Linked DNA regions of Homo sapiens: region 2 is linked to region 1. The links come from fine-mapping of genetic effects on gene expression. Tissue or cell type: whole blood. Region 1 holds a variant in brackets; the other region holds the start of a gene. All regions are shown on one strand. Distances are between the middles of the regions.

Region 1 (11,003 bases):
GAGAGACTCTGTCTCTACAAAATATTTAACAATTAGCTGGGTGTGGTGGTGTGTGCTTGTGGTCCCAGCTACTAGGGAGGCTGAGGTGGGAGGATCGCTTGAGCCCAGGAAATTGAAGCTGCAGTGAACTATGATCATGCCACTGCACTCTAGCCTGGGTGTTAGAGGTGAGACCCTGACTCAAAAAACAAAACAACAATAAAAAAGACTATGTTAATAGAACATTAAAGAGAAAAGCAATCCCCTTGATTCCGAACTTGGGGGATGTTTGAAGGTTATACTTGTAACCCAAAGAAACTTGACTAAGGCATACCAAGATATGTTAGGACCTTTTAGAGGGCAAAGATCTGGGGCAAACCCTTGATTTGCCAGCCTTGGCAGGGTAGACCTGAATGTGGGGAGTGAGGAGCTTCCCCTGATTCCACATCTTTAAGTCAGTCTGGCATACATGATAATGTTAGCTGTAGACGGTCTGATGCTGCTTGTGTCCTATCCTCTCCCGCTTTTCACTATTAGTTAAAATATATCTAACCATATTACCATCTGACTCTGATTCTTGGCTTCATCTCTTGTTTACAGTTCTGCTCTTGTTCATCGGACCAGCATTCATATTTGATCTTCCCTGTTGTATTCTTGGCCTTTTCCCAAGGAGTTGTCTCAGATCCACCTTAGGACTTCAGGTCTCAAAATCAAGGTGTGTTTGGGTTGATAAAAATTCTCTAAAATTAGATAGTGGTGATGGTTGTACAACTCTGAATATATTAAAAAACACTGAAACGTATATTTTATCATGTACTTTATTTTATTTATTTATATATATATTTTGAGATCCTCTCACTCTGTTGCCCAGGCTGGAGTGCAGTGGTGTGATCTTGGCTCACTGCAACCTCCACCTCCCAGGTTCAAGCAATTCTCCTGGCTCAGCCTCCCAAGTAGCTGGGACTACAGGCACGTGCTGCCATGCTTGGCTAATTTTTTGTATTTTTAGTAGAGATGAAATTTCCATGTTAGCCAGGCTGGTCTCGAACTCCTGATCTCAGATGATCCACTTGCTTCGGCCTCCCAAATTGCTGGGATTACAGGCATGAGCCACTGCGTCTGGTCTGAAACATATAGTTTAAATGTGTGAATTTCATAATATGTGAATATATAAGTATTTATTTACATATATATATTTTATATATATATAACATATATATTATATATAAGTATTTACTTACATGTAAGTATGGTATGTAAGTAAAACTGTTAAAAACATTAAGCTCTGGATCACTGGCCAGTGCACAATAAAAATAATAGTTTACATAGCATTCACTGTATACAATATAATGATCTAAACTCTTCATTTATAATTCTCGCAACAGCTCTATGAGGTAGATATTATCATTATCCCTACTTTTACAGAGAAGAAACATGAGATGCAGTGAAGTTGTGTAATTTTCTCTAGGTCTTACAGCTTCTATGTGCTCAGAGCCAAGAGAAGAGCAGGGAATCTGGCTTCAAAAGCAGTTCTCTTTACCACTATGCTATAGTGTGCTGTTAGGAAAGTGTGGGAAGTTTAGTGTGTCTGTTTTACCCATCAAAAAAGGAGATAAAGTTAGGTGCTAAGGATGAGAGTAGGAGCAGTCACTGAATGATGCAAATGTTTAGAATAATTACTGAAGGGAGTCAGAGGGTGTATCATTAATCTATTGTTGCATAATAAACTACTCCAAAACGTAGTGGCTTGAAACAAAAACCATTTATTTTGTTCATGAACCTGCTGGATAGTTTTGGTCTGGGTCAGGTTCATCTGATTCTGGTTTGTGATTTGTTGGTTGGCTGAGTCTAGTTGGTCCTGGAATGATTCACTCACATGTCTGTCTGGTGGTAGGCTGGCTGTCAACTGTGGTGATGAGGGTGACTGAATCCTGTGTCTCTCATCCTGTATCAGGCTAGCCCCGGCTTGTTCACATGGCTACAGGATTACGAGATCATTCTAAGTTCCAACATGCAACTGTTTTTTAAATCTCTGCTTGCTCATATATGCCAAAATGTTTCATTGGCCAAAGCAAATCCTGTGGTCAACCTGCATTCAAAAAGTAGTGAAATATTTATTATTATTATTATTATTTCAAATCCCCTACTTTAAGAAGCATGGTGTGGAGAAATAAATCCCACTTCTTTAGGGCAGGGAAAGAATGCATGGCCATTTTTTTTTAATGCCTCCTTTTAATCATGCAAACATATATGACAGTAAATATTAAATAAGAAAAAAAAAATGGTACTATTAAAGGACTTCATGCCTTCCACAAACCTAGAAGGTAAACAAGTGTCTACTTGTTGGAAAAAACAATTGTAATTTCCCAAGAATATATCTGATGGAGAACCAAGTTTAGATGGCCATATCGGGAAGATTACTCCCAGTAAATAGATCTCATTTGCTATGAATCGTGGACATTTAACAACATATGCAAAATGTTAAGACTTAGAATTGTATTTCCCAAGGTCTTTTTTTATTTTTTTTAATTGATCATTCTTGGGTGTTTCTTGCAGAGGGGGATTTGGCAGGGTCATAGGACAATAGTGGAGGGAAGGTCAGCAGATAAACAAGTGAACAAAGGTCTCTGGTTTTCCTAGGCAGAGGACCCTGCGGCCTTCCGCAGTGTTTGTGTCCCTGGGTACTTGAGATTAGGGAGTGGTGATGACTCTTAATGAGCATGCTGCCTTCAAGCATCTGTTTAACAAAGCACATCTTGCACCGCCCTTAATCCATTTAACCCTGAGTGGACACAGCACATGTTTCAGAGAGCACCGGGTTGGGGTAAGGTCATAGATCAACAGCATCCCAAGGCAGAAGAATTTTTCTTAGTACAGAACAAAATGGAGTCTCCTATGTCTACTTCTTTCTACACAGACACAGCAACAATCTGATTTCTCTATCTTTTCCCCACATTTCCCCCTTTTCTATTCGACAAAACCGCCATCGTCATCATGGCCCATTCTCAATGAGCTGTTGGGTACACCTCCCAGACGAGGTGGTGGCCGGGCAGAGGGGCTCCTCACTTCCCAGAAGGGGCAGCTGGGCAGAGGCGCCCCCCACCTCCCGGACGGGGAGGCTGGCCGGGCGGGGGCTGCCGCCCCCGCCTCCCTCCTGGACGGGGCGGCTGGCGGGCGAGGGCTGCCCCCCCTCCCCACCGCCTCCCTCCCGGAAGGGGCGGCTGGCCGGGCGGGGGCTGCCCCCCACCTCCCGGACGGGGAGGCTGCCAGGCGGAGACGCTCCTCACTTCCCAGACAGGGCGGCTGCCGGGCGGAGGGGCTCCTCACTTCTCAGATGGGGTGGCCGGGCAGAGACGCTCCTCACCTCCCAGACGGGGTCGCGGCCGGGCAGAGGCGCTCCTCACATCCCAGACGAGGCGGAGGGGCAGAGGCGCTCCCCACATCTCAGACGATGGGCAGCAGGGCAGAGACGCTCCTCACTTCCTAGACAGGATGGCGGCCGGGAAGAGGCGCTCCTCACTTCCCAGACTGGGCAGCCAGGCAGAGGGGCTCCTCACATCCCAGATGATGGGCGGCCAGGCAGAGATGCTCCTCACTTCCCAGACGGGGTGGCGGCTGGGCAGAGGCTGCAATCTCGGCACTTTGGGAGGCCAGGGCAGGCGGCTGGGAGGTGGAGGTTGTAGCGAGCCGAGATCACGCCACTGCACTCCAGCCTGGGCACCATTGAGCACTGAGTGAACCAGACTCCGTCTGCAATCCCGGCACCTCGGGAGGTGGACGCTGGCAGATCACTCGCGGTTAGGAGCTGGAGACCAGCCCGGCCAACACAGCGAAACCCCGTCTCCACCAAAAAAATACGAAAACCAGTCGGGCGTGGCGGCGCGCACCTGCAATCGCAGGCACTCGGCAGGCTGATGCAGGAGAAGCAGGCAGGGAGGTTGCAGTGAGCCGAGATGGCAGCAGTACAGTCCAGCTTCGGCTCAGCATCAGAGGGAGACCGTGGAAAGAGAGGGAGAGGGAGACCGTGGGGAGAGGGAGAGGGAGGGGGAGGGGGAGGGGGGAGGGGGAGCAATGCATGGCCATTTTTGCAATCTGCTATAGAAGGAGAGGTAACAATGGTTAAAGATTGATGAGGGGTGTTAAGGGTCTAACTAAAATTAGAAATTATACTTTTGTCATAGCACAATCCCTATGATTTTACATTTTCTGTAGCATGGCTCAGCTTCTTAAAGGCAGATTGTGGTACTAGAGGTGGAAGAGAGTGAGACCTTTGGGAATTAGTCATGGTACCCACTCAAAGAAGGTGGCAGTGGACCTAGGGATATGGTATTTCGTGGATAGGGTGATATCCACCTGATGTGGCACTGGTGCTTAACAAAGGCAGTCCCATGCAGTAGAAGGTAGCGAGTAGAGATCACTATTTTAGTGAGATAGACGAGGCTAAACAACAAGAATTCCAGATAATTTTTGACCAGTCATTTTTGTTGTCACATGTGATGCATTCCTTAGAACATCCATAAATATGAGTGTGGAAGATAGGTGACTTGAAGAGAGAGTGAAGGCAAAAGCCAGAGATACACTAAATCTTAAAATTCTGTACACAATATAAACCACAATTCCCAGGAAGAGAGTGGCTTCAATTTTTAATAAATTGGAAAGTTGGGTTAGATAAGCATGCTTACTTTATTTTTTTTCGTTTCTTTTTAAAAATTTGTGAGTGGTTTGTGTATGTGTGAGAAGTACTGGCAAGGTTATACGTTAGCTTTGTTACTCCTGGATGGGTTCATAGTGGTGGTATAGTCAAATTTCTCTACTGGACTGATGCCAAGGCTTCTGCTTTTCCATTTGCAAGGTTGCATATGTTTTTAATAAAGGTTTATAATTATAATGTAATTTCTAAACAATGTGAACATTTTTCAAGTATCACTAGACATT[G/T]TTTTTCCCTGTAAAACATGCCGTAAGGCGAGGTGCAGTGGCTCATGCCTGTAATCCCAATATGCCTCTGTAAGCCAAGGCAGAAGAATTGCTTGAGGCCAGGAATTTGAGACCAGCCTGGGCAATATAGCAAAGGCCCTGCCTCTGCAAAAAACTATACATAAGAGTAACTGGGCATGGTGGTGTGGTAGCTACTGGGAAGGCTGAGGCAGGAGGATTGCTTGAGGCTAGGAGTTCCAGGTTGCAGTGAGCTATGATTGCACCACTGCACACTTACCTGGGTGACACAGCAAGACTCTCTCTGTAAAATAAGGAAATAAAATAAAACATAAAATGTGCTATAGGGATTCTTTGGTGAATTTGATTTGATGACACGTCTTTGTTAAATAAGATGAAAGTAGTAAGTAGTAACAAAACTTAAACCTACTATCTCCAACCAAAAAGCACAAAAATGTCTTAAATAATAACAATCACAACAATAATGAACATTTATTGAACACTTTATATGTCTTAGGCATCTGATAAGCATTTACAGGTATTTGCTCATTTATTCTTCACAATATTTTATGAAATGACTACTAGTAAAGGGTATTGGTGTGTTTTAAAACTTTCTAAAATGTTCTTCAAATGTGATAATCGTAAGTTCACTCATACTAATCAACTATTAAATTAGTATGAATTTAAAAAAGAGAAGGCATCCTTGACCAAAAGAGATTCAAATTTTCAGTTCAGATATTCCTTAAAAACTATATGATAAAAATCTGCTGTTATGCCATCTTATCAGTAATATTACTCATATTAAAATAACAGAACTTCTTTGAATTGATTTTATTCTTGATTTCCTGCCAGAAGATTCCCCTGGTATTTACTTTTTAAAAATGTCCCATTAAGCTTTACTTTCAGAACATTAACCATTTAAGTAATTAATTTACACAGTTTTATTAAAAGTTTAAAGTATTACTAATTTCATTCAACATTATTGTTGTTTAGTATATTCATTGAAATTTAAACGACCATTGACATATGGAATATTTAATCAGATTTTCTTAGCCATTTAAAATTCACTCAAGGAATAATATATAATATAATCGATGGAAGAGTAGTGGAAATTCAATTCAATTGTTAAACAATTATTTTAGGCCAGGTGTAGTGGCACACGCCAGTAATCCTAACACTTTGGGAGGCTAAGTGCGGGGATCACTTGAGACTAGGAGTTTGAGACCAGTCTGGGCAAGGTAGGAAGACCCCTATCTCTAAGGGGAAAAAAAAAAAGCTGGGCGTGGTGGCACACACCTGTCGTCCCCAGCTACTCGAGAGGCTGAGATGAGGATTGCTTGAGCCCTGGAGGTCAGGGCTGCAGTTAGCTGTGATCACTCCAGGCTGGGTGATAGAGCAAGACTCTGTCTCAAAAAAGAAAAAAAAATTCTGAATTATCTAGGAGAAAGAAATACAATGTATGCTTAAGCTGTAGACAACACAACTGAGCCATTTACTGAGATTATTTATGTTTGTGTTTCCTTGGGACTTCAGTGCGATCTCTCTCAGAGAATTTCTTCACAGAGTCTAAAGATCTTTTATCTTCCTATGTTTAGTTATTGAAGAAATGCTTTTTCTAGCATATCTTGGATAAGCAAGTATCCTCTGAAACTCTATCACTCTCATGGAACAGAGATTCATTCTAGGTTTAAACCCCTCTAACTCAGTTAGTAGTTTTGAATACCTTTATGAAACTTGACTTGGTTTATCGAGCTAAAAATTAATGGGGCAGTTCCTTGGCCTTTTGGGATTTGCAAGATACACATGGAATTCTGTCTCTAGCTACTCCTTTTTGCCCATTTTCATGGTCTTCTCCCTGACGGATGGTTGCATGTCCCAGTAGATGAGACCTAAATGCTAGTCTTACATTTATGCCATTGTTCTGCCCCTGGTAGCACTCACTCTGCCAGTTCTTTCGATGGTCTCTTGTATGAGATGGGCCATGTTCAAGGACAAGTCAAGAAGTCCCAACAGGTTACTCCTAGAACATGAGGATTATGATTTCCATGTTAGGCCCCTTTCTTTCCTGTGGTCATATGGCCATACATATTGTGATCAGTGTTTTGAGAAGAATAGTCCAGTTTATCTCCCGTGTAAATTTATTTCTTCTTGAACCATTACATGAGGTTAGAAGTGTATACATTTTAATTGTAAACACACCTACCAGCTATGTGATGATGGAAAAGTCATTTAACTTTTCTGAGCCTCAGTTTCCTCGTCTGTAAAATGAGAATAACACAGTACCTGTGTAATGTGGTGCTTGTGAAAACTAAAGAGGCAATATGTAGAAAAAAACAATTATAGTGCCTGGACCATAAATAGATTGTACCAGTCTGTTTGGGATGATTGCAAAATTAAACAGTACAGAAAATTAAGCTGTGGAACGTGTCAGTTTATTAAGAAATGATGGCTGGGTGCAGTGGCTCATGCCTGTAATCTCAGCACTTTGGGAGGCTGAGGCAGGGTGGATCATCTACGGTCAGGAGTTCAAGACCAGCCTGACCAACATGGTGAAACCCTGTCTCTATGAAAACTACAAAAATTACCCAGGCATGGTGTTGCATGCCTGTAGTGTCAGTGACTCGGGAGGCTGAGGCAGGACAATCGATAGAACCCTGGAGGTGGAGGTTGCAGTGAGCTGAGATCACACCACTGCACTCTAGTCTGGGTGACAGAGCGAGCCTCCATCTCAAAAAAAAAAAGGAAATGACTCAGTCGGGCACAGTGGCTCATGCCTGTAATCCTGGCACTTTAGGAGGCCGAGGTGGGCAGATCACTTGAGGTCAGGAGTTCAAGACCAGCCTGGCCAACATGCCAAAACCCTGTCTCTACTAAAAATACAAAAATTAGCTGGGCATGGTGGTGCATGCCTGTAGTCCCAGCTACTCAGGAGGCTGAGTCATGAGAATCACTTGAACCCAGGAGGCAGAGTTTGCAGTGAGCTGAGATCGTGCTGCTGCATTCCAGCCTCATCAACGGAATGAGACTCTGTCTCAAAAAAAAAAAAAAAAAAAAAACCTCAATGAAAACAATCCTATGGTGAGGCAGAAGTAGAAAAACTGACCATAGTACTGGAAGCATGAGTCCTGCTCTGATACTCTTCAGGCATTACCACAGATATCACCTTACTCTGTACAGGTATCCGTCCAGATTCCTGGGAAGTCTCTGCCCAAAGTGCCATGTAGCAACCGCACCTCTTAAAGGCAGTTCATCTGTCTGAGACTGTTAGAGCCTTATGCTTTGGACAGCCCAAGTACCAACATCCACTAAACATCTTTTGTGCCTTAAAATGGACAGTAAGCCAGGTGCAGTGGTGAGTACCTGTAGTCCCAGCTACTCAGGAGACTGAGAAGGGAGGATCACTTGAGTCTAGGAGTTTGCTACTGCAGAGCTATGATCTTGCCACTGCACTCCAGCCTAGGTGACAGAGTGAGACCCTGTCTCAGAAAAAGAGAGAGAGTGAGAGAGAGAAAAAAGGACAGCAAAACATGCCATCAAAACATAAGACCTCTGCTTCCAACCTTCAGCCAAAATGGGGTAACCAGGACTTGATTTATCCTCCTGCCTGCTTAATTGTTTTGAACCAACTAAAAAATTGCACAAAATATATGTGCAACAATGATTTTCAAGACAGTGTGTATCAGGTAGCACTGGAAAGTGATCCTGAGAGGGGAAACAAACAAGGTGAGGCCTGTGATTGCCCAATTGACAACCTAGAGAGAGATTCCGGGCACGGCATGGAGAGGAGCTACACAGGCAGAGCCTAGTGGTCTCCCTGAGTTGAGAAGAAACTGGGGGTCTGAGGGAGGCCCAGGCATCCCAGAGTTCACAAGTCAGAGTACCAGAGAGGAAAAAGCTTCAGTGAGACCAAGACAGAAAGCAAGAATGAGTGAGAGAGAGAGAGTGAGCTCTGGAGATATGGACGGAGCTGGGTTTAGGATGAGGCAAGGGAGATACTTAGACAACAAACTGTAAGGAGACACTCATATATGGGTACTTGCTTGAGCACAAGCAGGTGAGAAAACTGCATGAGGCTGGACAAAGACCACTTAAAAAGATTAGAGGGAACCATATTTGAAACTCTTGAAGCAGAGACTAAGGGAAATGTATTACTCTTGTAAACCAAAAATAAAATTCTAAGCCCCCCACCATCTGAATGGACCCTCCTCTTAGCAAGGGTATTCCAAAGTTAACCTGAAAAACTAGTTCAGGCCATGATTGTAACGGGGAGCCAGACATGCCTCATTATACCCCTTTCCCTTTTGAAATTACTGATAGAACACACTCTTTAAGTTTGATAAGAAACATTTACAGCTTATTCTCTTTGAAGCCTGCTATCTGGATGCCTCATCTGCATGATAAACCTTGGTTTTCAGAACCCCTTAGCATAACCCAGGCATTCCTTTCTATTGATAATAACTCTTTCAACCAATCAGAAAATCTTTAAATCTACCCGTGACCTGGAAGCCCCTGCTTCTAGTTGTTCCACCTTTCTGGACCAAACCAATGTACATCTTACATGTATTGATTGATGTCTCATGCATTTCTAAAAAATATAAAACCAAGCTGTACCCTGACCATCTTGGGCACATGTCGTTAGGATCTCCTGAGGCTGTCATGGGTGTGTCCTTAACCTTGGCAAAATAAACTTCCTAAATTGATTGAGACCCATCTTAGATACTTTTGGTTTACACCCTCTACAGTAGCAATAGCCAGAGTATCAGCACTTTCGCACTGGTTCCCCAATCCATAATTACCAGAGGATGATGTAAAGTGGGGCTAGGTGACACAAGCACATGTAGTGGGTTTGTGACAGGAGAGAAATCCAGAGCTTAGGAAACCTGAATCTTTTTCCTAAGGCTAGTGAGCATGTCTCCCTTTTGGTATGGAGGGAGACACTATGTCATCTTTGAGGGCTGTTTGCTGTTCAAACATCTTTGAAAAGGTAGTATGAATAAAGGGAAGTAAGTGCAGAAATGTGTAAGACACTTGGAGAATTGTCTCTCAACAATTACCTTCCTGTATTATTACAAAGGCACACTATTCCCTTATGGGAATTGTAAACTCAAAGGACCAAGGTGAGGGGTGGGGTGCATACAGGTATTATAAATAAGTTTATTGAGCTAAGTGCTAATAATAGGGAGTGGCAGGCTCTGTGGTGAAGATGAATTCAAGAAAGCATGCTCCTCCCTATCCCCATTTCCTGAAGACATTTAGATTAAACAAACTTTAAATAATAGTGCTTGTCAAATAAAACTACTGTCACTGTTCACACTCAGTGATGAGCATGACCGCTTCCTTACACATTTGTATTTGTGTACTCTCTACAAGAATCTTGAAAAAATACATATCTACATATATATGTGTATATATGTGTATATATATGTATATATGTGTATATATGTATATATATGTGTATATATGTATATATATGTGTATATATATGTATATATACGTGTGTGTGTGTGTGTGTGTGTGTGTGTGTGTGTATGTGTATATAGTTTTTTTAGAAAGGGCCTCGCTGTGTTGCCCAGGCTGGAGTGCAGTGGTGTGATTATAGCTCATTGCAGCCTCAACCTCCTGGGCTCAAGTGATCCTCCCTCCTCAACTTTCTGAGTAGTTGAGAGTATAGACATATGCCACCATGTCTGGCTAATTTTTAAAATTTTCTTGTAGAGACTAGATCTCACTATGTTGACCAGCCTGTTCTTGAACTGCTGACCTCAAGTGAACCTTCTACCCCAGCCTCCCAAAGTGCTGGGATTACAGGCATTAGCCACTGTACCTGACATCTATTGATAATTTTTAAGTTGTCCTCAATGATTTTTCAGCAAACATTTAAATAATTTTAATTTTTGTTAATATTAAGTAGAAAATAAACATTTTATAAGATGAGAATTGACTAACTGGAATAAACATTTAATTATATGATTTGATAAATTTGGTTTTAATGCCTAATTGAATAAAGCACACCATGTATTTACAGATTTTAGTCAGTGCATCTGAAAAAATTTGGGAGTCCCACAAAATATTCCATTTATATTGAAAAGAAT
Region 2 (11,003 bases), 25 kb before region 1:
CTTGCCAATACATAGTTGGTATTTCCATTGATTGCTGTTTACTATATTTCCTTTCTTCAAAAGGGTATAAAAGGGTATGAAGGAGGAGTTTTAATTTTAAATCATGAGCACACAGAAAACATCAATATATTACAGTGATGGGATAGTGATGGCATATCTTCCAGACTCGGAAAACTATGAAATACTGTGAACCTAAATTAGCTACAATCTTACCTCTAATTGGGCTAATTTTTCCTGAATCTTACAAAACTGGTCATCATCCACCTGAACTGCTTTCCTCATCACTTCTCCCATTTCACAGATTCTGTCAATCTGACTCTCAATTTCCTGTGAAGATATTAAGGAAACAAAGGTGGAAAAATCACCTGTTCTGTAGATATAAAGAACGTAAAAGCATGTGCATTACGATTTTTAAAAGTTCATTTAATCTATGATACAGAAGTTACAATGGAGTTTCCCTACAATTTTAGTCCTCAGACATGAAGCCATAGTAAAGTGACCTTGTATTCACGGATATTTTTTTTTTTTTCTTTCAAAAAATCAATTGTGGAAGACAGTGTGGTGATTCCTCAAGGATCTAGAACTAGAAATACCATTTGACCCAGCAATCCCATTACTGGGTATATACCCAAAGGATTGTAAATCATGCTACTATAAAGACACATGCACACATGTTTATTGCGGCACTATTCACAATAGCAAAGACTTGGAACCAACCCAAATGTCCATCAATGATAGACTGGATTAAGAAAATGTGGCACATATATACCATGGAATACTATGCAGCCATAAAAAAGGATGAGTTCATGTCCTTTGTAGGGACATGGATGAAGCTGGAAACCATCATTCTGAGCAAACTATCACAAAGACAGAAAACCAAACACCGCATGTTCTCACTCATAGGTGGGAATTGAACAATGAGAACACTTGGACACAGGGTGGGGAACATCACACACCGGGGCCTGTCATAGGGTTGGGGGAGTGGGGACGGATAGCATTAGGAGGAATACCTAATGTAAAGGACGAGTTAATGGGTGCAGCACACCATCATGGCACATGTATACATATGTTAACAAACCTGCACGTTTTGCACATGTACCCTAGAACTTATTTAAAAAACAAACAAAAAAAAGGCCTCCTTAAGGGGATCCTCATTCCAGTTGTATATGTTCTATTGATACCACTACTAAGGAATACAGTTTTTTAAAATATATATAATGTTTCTTATATTTAAAACCAAGAAGTGAAGAGTAGAATGCATTTTCTGTTTTCGCTCTTTGCCCAGACATCAAGTTGATAATCATATGGTTATCTGTGATATGCATCAGCTCATAAGTAACCCTTTGGTATGTGAACATGGGGAATTTTAAAATACTGGGCTCTTCAATATGGATTTGTGTTACACTCATGTCATCATCTCATGCCTTCCAAGATTTCAAAGGATCTGATGGCTGTAATTGCAGAGAATAAATGAGTAATCTTTAGTCTATTTCAGAAATAGAAGGCCACATGATTCCCTTTCCATAAAGGACTAAGGTTTCATCCAATGCCAACTCTGGTAAGGCCTTAGTCATTTTTGTGGGTGAAATCTGATTCGATGCAAGCAATGTTATTTTCATTTCTGAAAATTATCTATGTCCAGTGCATCAATCCCCCAGTAGGTCCACACTCCAATAAAAAGATTTGAAATGGAAAAAAAAAATCAATTGTAGTTTAACTACCCATTGGATGTTGGATACTATCTCTAAGTGGCTGTTTAACTTAAATTTGAATACTTTTACTGGCAGGAAGCTTACTACATTCCAAGGTGCTTTATTCCATCTTTGGACATATCACTTAGAAAGTTTATCTATCTGAGTAAACTCTGTCTCTTTCAAGGTTCAAGTTTTTTCCTCCATACGAGAAGAAAATCTATTTTTCTCTTCCAGATGAAAGCCATTCAAATATTTAAAATATCTGTTTCCTAAAACTTTTAAGTCAGTAAAATGCATTCAATGGAATTTAAGATGAAGCTTATATTTCACTACATCTCACAGAAGTAGTAGGCTCCAACCCTATACATCTAGAATTAAATGATACAGTACACAAGAATGTACAATGACAACCATGAAGCACCTATAAACATAAGAACAATTACTGAGTCTCCCAAATTAGCAAAGAACAGAAACTATGCCATGTTTGTTTTTTTAAAAAACCATACTTCTCTCCCCTAACAACATAGTATGATACTATGTGGTTCAGTTTATAAAAGGTTTACTGACTGCCTGCTGTATGTCAGGTACTATGTTAGGAATAAAATGTGAATTCATGCGCCTTACAAGCAAGGAGCTTAAGTTAAATGTATAAGTAATAACCAACCAAGTGTTTACCAGGCAGCTTCAACACTAACTGGCATTATGTTTGGTGGGAGCGCTAAGAATTAATGAACATTTTCAAAAGAGATCTTGGTGAGGGAGGGGGAACCTTAGTCCCACTCAAATAAAAGGATCTGAGCAGCCCCTATCCTCCTTCTTTCTATTCATATCTTTACAAAGCCATGGCAAAATAAACAACAAATGTGATAAACATGAAAGGAAAATGAGCTTACTTTTCTTCAAAAACAAGCACACATGGCCAGGCGCAGTGGTTCATGCCTATAATCCCAGCACTTTGGAAGGCTAACGTGGGTGGATCGCTTGAGCCCAGGAGTTTCAGACCAGCCTGGGCAACATGGCGAAATGTCATCTCTACCAAAAAACAAACAAACAAACAAACAAACAAACAACCCCACAAAAATTAACAGGGCGTGGTGGTGTGCACCTGTAGTCCCAGCTGCTCCGGAGGCAGAGGTGAGACGATGGCTTGAGCCCAGGAGGCAGAGGTTGCAGTGAGCCGAGATCGTGCCATTACACCACGGCCTGGTCGACAAGAGCCAGACCCTATCTCACAAAGCAAAAAAACAAGCACACAATCTAAAACAATCTCAAGATTTCAATTTGGTTCATTTCGAATTTATTCAAAGTTTCTTACTGCAGAGTGAGACTGGTGAGCTTTCAGGACTGGTTCAGCATCCACCGCTTTTTTAGCAACCATTAACTGTAACATCTGTTTCCGATATTTGCTCATGATAAGTTCCAAAGCATCCTGGTGTTCCTCCAAGGAAATCCATAGCTCTGTCAAAAAATAAAAGAACTTGGCAGTGATGTCTGAGAGACAGTTCCCAAATCCAAAGTCTTAACAGTTGGAATTTTGTAACACTATATAGATAATATGAATCTAAAGTTGTAAATCAATGTTTAAGTCCGCAAAACTGAACAGTTAAAGTCTATGTGAAAGGTAACTTTCTAGGCAGAGAAGCAAAGTCTTGCAGAAACAACAATGGATGTATCATCAGAAGACATGTGTTTGAGTTCAGTTCTGTAACTTGCTTGGTTAATACTCATAAGTAAATCATTTAGCTTCTTCTGAGCCTATTTCTTAACTGCATTGTGGTAGATAAAAATGAAGATATGAGAATACAGTAGAATGATATATGTGAAACCCCTCTGGTAAACAACTATTAATACCACAATCATTAATAATGTACTAATCAAGCCTAAGAATATATACCCTTAGAATAAAATTCTGCTGCTTCACCTTGCACAAACAAGAACATAAACAAAACCTTAAATCTTACCTTCAGTGTTTATATTAATACTTAAACATTAAATTTTAAGTCCATGAGGCTATGAACTCTTTTGTTACACATCTGAGGATGCTTAAAAATAAACCATGCAATAATACCAACTCTACACAGCACCTCTTTGGTAAGCTGCTGCAATATTAGTCAGATGACCTTGAAAAGGGTAATCTAACAAACTTTATTGTTACTGGGCCAGATCAGGAGGACTCTCCTACTAAAAGTACTGACCTGGAAATATATGTACACTTTTGTAAATGTTTAGGGCAATTTTGCAATAACTTTAAACTATTACCAGATATGAAAAGGCCTGACTAACCTCTGTTTTCCTGTTGCAAGTCTCTAATCTGTGTGTTCTCTTGGGACAGCAGAATGTGAGGTTTGTATTTGGACATGTCCTTCATATCGGATGCATCCTCTTGATACTGGACAAATAGAGACAGACTAAGCATGCCTTAAAGAGAACAGCGGCAGATGCAACTGAAGAGGCAGAAGTTAGGGCTCCAGGGCAGGATTCTCAGCCCCGACCCAGGAAAATGGTCTCACCGCCGCCCTCTGAGACCGGGAATAAATTCCAGGCCGAGTTCCCACTTTACCTCGCTCTCCACCCTTCAGTGCCCAGAATCCGAGAGCACTGGACTCCTACCCTCTGCCTGACCTGGTCCGGAAGCGCTGTCCCCGCCTCCCGCATAGCTGCTACCCGCCGGTGCAGCGCCGCCGACTGATCCACCAGCGACTCGGCGGCCGCATCGTGCTCCCGTAGCCTCTCCAGCAGCGTCTTGGCGTCTGTCAGGATCTTCTCGATGGTGCAGCTCATAGCAGCAGCACCACCCCAGCCCCTGCCGGGCTCAGCTACGCGACTCGCTCAGATCTTCTGGGAGTCTGTCTCAGCATTACAGGCGTCATTTCCGGGCACGTTTACAAGGTGTCTTGGTAGGCGCAATGGGCGCCTGCGCAGTGGCAGCCTATTTTGCGGGTTGACCCGCTTTAACCTGCGGCTTCCTTGCAGTCCTTCCTTGCGCGGAGCCCCAGACCTACACTTGCCACGCCGTTGGTTTCCAGTTACCACAGCCTGGTGGTCAGGCTATGATTAGCTGGGCAGTGGGAAGGTCTCCTTTCCCTACTGGTTTTCATTGATGTGGGTTGTTCTTCAGTCACAGTTAGTTTCTTTTTATTTTCATTATTTTTTTCTTTTTTGAGACGGAATCTTGCTCTTGTCCAGGCTGGAGTGCAGTGGCGCGATCTTGGCTCATTGCAACCTCTGCCTCCAGGGTTCAAGCGATTCTCCTGCCTCAGCCTCTCGAGTAGCTGGGATTACAGGCATGCGCCACCACGCCGGCTGATTTTTCTATTTTTAGTAGAAACGGGGTTTCACATGTTGGCCAGGCCGGTTTCGAACTCCTGACCTCAAGTGATCCGCCCGCCTCGGCCTCCCAAAGTGCTGGGATTACAGGTGTGAGCCCCCGCGCCTGGCCTACTTTCATTTAATTTTTTTTAAATTGTGGCAAAATACACATAAAATTTAATATCTCAGCCATTTATAAGTGTACAGTTCAGTTGTACATTCATATTGTTATACAGCCACCATCAGCATCCATCTCTAGAACTCTTTCATCTTGCAGTACTGAAGTTCTGTACTCATTAAACAATAATTCCTCATTCTTCCTTATCCCCAGCTCCTGGCAGCCACCATTCTACTTTGTGTCTCTACAAATCTGACTATTCTGGGTACCTGACATGAGTGAAATCATACAGCATTTGTATTTATATAACTGCCTTATTTCACTTAGTGTAATGTCCACGAGTTTCATCCATATAGTAGCATATGTTAGAATTTCCTTCCTTTTTAAGGCTGAATAATATATATATACCACGTTTTGTTTATCCATTCATCCGTGGATGGACAGTTGGGTTGCTTCCACCTTTTGCTATTGTCAATAATGCTGCTATTGCAACTGGCTCACGTCTGGCTGCTTGCTGCCTAGAGGCCAAAAACATGAGAAGTGACCTGTGGTGAAAGCTTTACTAATCAAATGCTCGCAGATGGGGAATGGCTAGGCTCATGCCTTCAAAACAGCATTCCACTTTTTTTTTTTTTTTGGTCAAGGTATCCCAGAGACAGTATCAGTGTCCAAACTTTAATTTTGTCCCATATCAATGCCAGGGTGGTGTGCTACCTGCCCTGAGTCCATCATGTCCCTCCTGCGGCCAACTGACTTAGAGTCAAAAGAGTTACAGCCAATTAAACGTTCTAGGTCAGATGGGAAGGAGGTGGGCAGGCACTCATTAACCTTAAAACCCCTCTTAAGCAATGTTAAGAGGCAAAAACCAAAAGGCAAGGGTTACAAAATTGACTTATCTATAAATTCTATGCATTGAGCTGCTGTAATCTTGGCTTGTTGCAATTAGCTATACAAAATGCAAGCATTTTGTTTAGCTGTTTTGGCATCTGTGTCATCCTTGATTTGTAGGGTCTGAACTAATTTTAGCTCTCAATACTGGCCCTTACAACATTACGTTATAGTCTCTAGGCATGGCGGGATTGAAGAGTTTCAACTTTTGTAGGTAAAACAAAACAGAAAGAATTAACAACATTTCAAACACAAAGGTCATAAACCCTGCCTAGTTTTGAGAATAACAGGAAAAGAAGTTCATAGGTAGCTAAACACTTAAATTATTTAGTATCAAGGCACAGAATAAATTATATTAATTCAGATAGAGGCAGAATTGTTAAATGAATCTTAATATTTTTGAACACAAGACTGTCCCTGTGTCTCATGAAAGCAGTTTACTTTGTCGCCTTTGCCTGAGTCTAACGATGAGGCTTTGGTTAATTGCAGTTTAGTGTCAGATACTGGCAGGAGTTGATGCCTTCTTTGGATGAGATATGTGTAAGTCCCTATAACTTAAAAGCACAAGGATTAGTTAATATCACCTGATAAGGACCTTTTCAAGGAGCTGGAGGTGTGATACCGGAGTCTATGACCTGACTGGAAGCTGTAAAAATATTTTACAACCTTGCAGTGATTAATTTTTATAGCTTCGATAAACCCCAGCAATAAGTCAGAGACTTAATTTACGATTTTGATTTTGAGGACATTGGTCAAAGATTTTAAAAGCCTCAAAACATTTGATCAAAACAAGATAATATTCATTGTAAAAATAATAGTTACTCATTTAACCAAACTGATAATTAAAGACTTTAAAGGCAATTGAGAAGGTTACCAGGACATAAAAACCTGAACCCTTTTAAATCTCAGTTTTTCTAGGCAATTAAAAACCCATTAAAGAGAGCATGGGAATTATTTGATAAAACATTAAAATCTTGTTTCTTAAGCAAGTTACTACACAGGCAAAAAACCCCTTCTGCTGTGTGACTGCTTCTCCTTATGGGAAGACCATGTAGGTAACCTGAAAGTCATACTTGAAAAAAGTGCTTGAATTTAATCAGACACAAGAAGAGTGTATTCATGCTTATGAGTATAGCAAGGGAATACATCTCTCTGAGCAATTGCGTGAGAAGTTTCCTGATTACAACGAAAATCACATATCAAGAAAAGCCGGGAGTACAGAATCAAGTTATATTGGAGGAAAACACTGCTTTTATAGACTTCTAAGATAAAACATTTCAGCATCAGGCCCCAACAGTTAGAATCAGAGGAAAAAGAATTAGAGGAGCTGATGGAAAAAGTTGAAGGAGAGTGTCCTTTTCAAAGGGAGGAAAAAACTGAAAACAGCCAGACACAACAAAAGCTGAACTTCTGAGATATGAATCTGAGAAGTTTTAAAAAAAAATAGGTGATAGAATTAAAAAGCAAAATTTCCTTTAATTTCATTAAGAGTAAACCAACACCTTAGGAAAACCTTATTTAAACCTAGGGAATCATTCATTATTTTTATTTTTATTTTACTTTAAGTTCTGGGATACATGTGCAGAACATGTAGGTTTGTTACATAGGTATACATGTGCCATGGTGGTTTGCTGTACCTATCAACCCATCATCTAGGTTTTAAGCCCCACATGCATTAGGTATTTGTCCTAATGCTCTCCCTCCCCCTGCCCCCCACCCCCCAACAGGCCCGGGTGTGAGATGTTCCCCTCCCTTTGTCCATGCGTTCTTATCGTTCAACTCCCACTTATGAGTGAGAACATTTGGTGTTTGGTTTTCTGTTCCTGTGTTAGTTTGCTGAGGGTGATGGTTTCCAGGTTCATCCATGTCCCTGCAAAGGACATGAACTCATTCTTTTTTTTTTTTTTTTCTTTTTGAGACAGAGTTTCACTCTTGTTGTCCAGGCTGGAGTGCAATGGTGCGATCTCGGCACACTGCAACCACTGTCTCCTAGGTTCAAGCGATTCTCCTGCCTCAGCCTCCCAAGTATTTGGGATTACAGGCATGTGCCACCAAGCCTGGCTAATTTTATATTTTTAGTAGAGATGGGGTGTCTCCATGTTAGTCAGGCTTGTCTCAAACTCCCAACCTCAGGTGATCTGCCCGCCTCAGCCTCCCAAAGTCCTAGGATTATAGGCGTGAGCCACTGTGCCCGGCTGAACTCATTCTTTTTTATGGCTCCATAGTATTCCATAGTGTATATATGCCACATTTTCTTTATCCAGTCTATCGTTGATGGGCATTTGGGTTGGTTCCAAATTTTTGCTATTGTAAATAGTGCTGCAATAAACATACGTGTGCATGATTTATAATCCTTTGGAATGATTTATAATCCTTTTGGTATATACCCAGTAATGGGATTGCTGGGTCAGATGGAATTTCTGGTTCTAGATCCTTGAGGAATCGCCATACTGTCTTCCACAATGGTTGAACTAATTTACACTCCCACCAACAGTGTAAAAGCGTTCCTATTTCTTCACATCCTCACCAGCATCTGTTGTTTCCTGAGTTTTTAATGATTGCCATTCTAACTGGCATAAAATGGTATCTGATTGTGGTTTTGATTTGCATTTCTCTAATGACCAGTAATGATGAGGTTTTTTTTATATGTTTGTTGGCCCCATAAATGTCTTCTTTTTTTTTTTTTGAGAGAGAGTCTTGCACTGTCCCCCAGGCTGGAGAGCAGTGGTACGATCTCGGCTCACTGCAAGCTCCGCCTCCCGGGTTCACGCCATTCTCCTCCCTCAGCCTCCAGAGTAGCTGGGACTGCAGGCGCTCACAACCACGCCTGGCTAATTTTTTTTTTTTTTTGTATTTTTAGTAGAGATGAGCTTTCACAGTGTTAGCCAGGATGGTCTTGATCTCCTGACCTCATGATCCGTCCGCCTCAGCCTCCCAAAGTGCTGGGATTACAGGCGTAAGCCACCACACCAGGTATAAATGTCTTCTTTTGAGAAGTGTCTGTTCATATCCTTTGCCACTTTTTGATTGGGTTTTTTTTTTCTTGTAAATTTGTTTAAGTTCCTTTTAGATTCTGGAGTTTAGCCCTTTGTCAGACGGATAGATTGCAAAAATTTTCTCCCATTCTGTAGGTTGCCTGTTCACACTGACGATAGTTTCTTTTGCTGAGCAGAAGCTCTTAGTTTAATTAGATCCCATTTGTCAATTTTGGCTGCGGCTGAAATTGCTTTTGGTGTTTTAGACTTGAAGTCTTTGCCCATGCCTATGTCCTGAATGATATTACTTAGGTTTTCTTCTAGGGTTTTTATGGTTTTAGGTTTTATGTTTAAGTCTTTAATCCACCTTGAGTTAATTTTTGTTTAAGGCATAAGGAAGGGGCCCAGTTTCTGTTTTCTGCATATGGCTAGCCAGTTTTCCCATCACCATTTATTAAGTAGGGAATCCTTTCCCCATTGCTTGTTTTTGTCAGGTTTGCCGAAGATCAGATGGTTGTAGATGTGTGGTGTTATTTCTGAGGCCTCTGTTCTGTTCCATTGGTCTATATATCTGTGTTGCTATCAGTACCATGCTGTTTTGGTTACTGTAGCCTTGTAGTATAGTTTGAAATCAGGTAGTGTGATGCCTCCAGCTTTGTTCTTTTGCTTAGGATTGTCTTGGCTATATGGGCTCTTTTTTGGTTCCATATGAAATCTAAAGTAGTTTTTTCTAGTTCTGTGAAGAAAGTCAATGGTAGCTTGATGGGAATAGCAGTGAATCTATAAATTACTTTGGATAGTATGGCCATTTTCATGATACCAATTCTTCCTATCCATGAGCATGGAATTTTTTTTTCCTATTTGTTTGTGTCCTCCCTTATTTCCTTGAGCAGTGGTTTGTAGTTCTCCTTGAAGAGGTCCTTCAGGTCCCTTGTAAGTTGTATTCCTAGGTATTTTATTCTTTTTGTAGCTATTGTTAATGGGAGTTCACTCATGATTTGGCTCTCTGCTTGTCTATTATTGGTATATAGAAATGCTTGTGATTTTTGCATATTGATTTTGTATCCTGAGACTTTGCTGAAGTTGCTTATAAGCTTGAAGAGTTTTTGAGCTGAGATGATAGGGTTTTGTAGATATACAATCATGTCTTTTGCAGACACAGAAAATTTGACTTCCTCTCTTCCTATTTGAATACCCTGTATTCTTTCTTTTGCCTGATTGCCCTTGCCTGAACTTCCAATACTATGTTGAATAGAGTAGTGAGAGAGGGCATCCTTGTCTTGTGCCGGTTTTCAAGGGGAATGCTTCCAGCTTTGCCCATTCAGTACGATATTGAGTATGGGTTTGTCATAAATAGCTCTTATTATTTTGAGATACATTCCATCAATACCTAGCTTATTGAGAGTTTTTAGCATGAAGGGATGTTGAATTTCATCAAAGGCCTTTTCTGCATCTATTGAGATAATCATGTCATTTTTACATGGTTCTGTTTATGTGATGGATTATGTTTATTGATTTGTGTATGTTGAACCAGCCTTGCATTCCTGGGATGAAGCTGACTTGGTTGTGGTGGATAAGCTTTTTGATGTGCTGCTGGATTTGGTTTGCCAATATTTTATTGAGAATTATCACATTGATGTTCATCAGGGATATTGGCCTGAAATTTTCTTTTTTTGTGTTGTGTCTCTGCCATGTTTTGGTATCAGGATGATGCTGGCCTTATAAAATGAGTTAGGGATGAGTCCCTCTTTTTCTATTGTTTGGAATAGTTTCAGAAGGAATGGTATCAGCTCCTTTTTGTACCTCTGGTAGAATTCGGCTGTGAATCCACCTGGTCCTGGACTTTTTTTGGTTGGTAGGCTATTAATTACTGCCTCAATTTCAGAACTTGTTATTGGTCTATTCAGGGATTCAACTTCTTCCTGGTTTAGTCTTGGGAGGTTGTATGTGTCCAGGAATTTATCCATTTCTTCTAGATTTTCTAGTTTATGTGCAAAGAGGTGTTTATAGTATTCTCTG

Evidence for each region. PIP is the estimated chance that this variant, and not a neighbour inherited with it, causes the effect. A credible set is the group of variants that fine-mapping cannot tell apart.
Region 2: SIKE1 starts here. The variant in region 1 is the best candidate, but not a certain one, in a credible set for the expression of SIKE1 in whole blood (INTERVAL, PIP 0.67).

What each region holds. Positions count from the first base shown.
Region 1 is chr1:114,801,340-114,812,342 of GRCh38, forward strand. No RefSeq gene overlaps it. Among named protein-coding and RNA genes, the nearest start is that of SIKE1, 26 kb to the left of the region's middle. The variant G/T (reference allele first, on the strand shown) is at 4,915.
Region 2 is chr1:114,776,133-114,787,135 of GRCh38, forward strand. It overlaps SIKE1 (suppressor of IKBKE 1), which reads right to left and starts at 4,553. Exons shown (of 5, transcript NM_025073.3): 1 at 4,317-4,553; 2 at 3,978-4,083; 3 at 3,010-3,152; 4 at 214-327. The coding sequence starts at 4,475. RefSeq lists enhancers at 3,739-4,305, 4,306-4,871, 4,336-4,575, 4,816-4,935.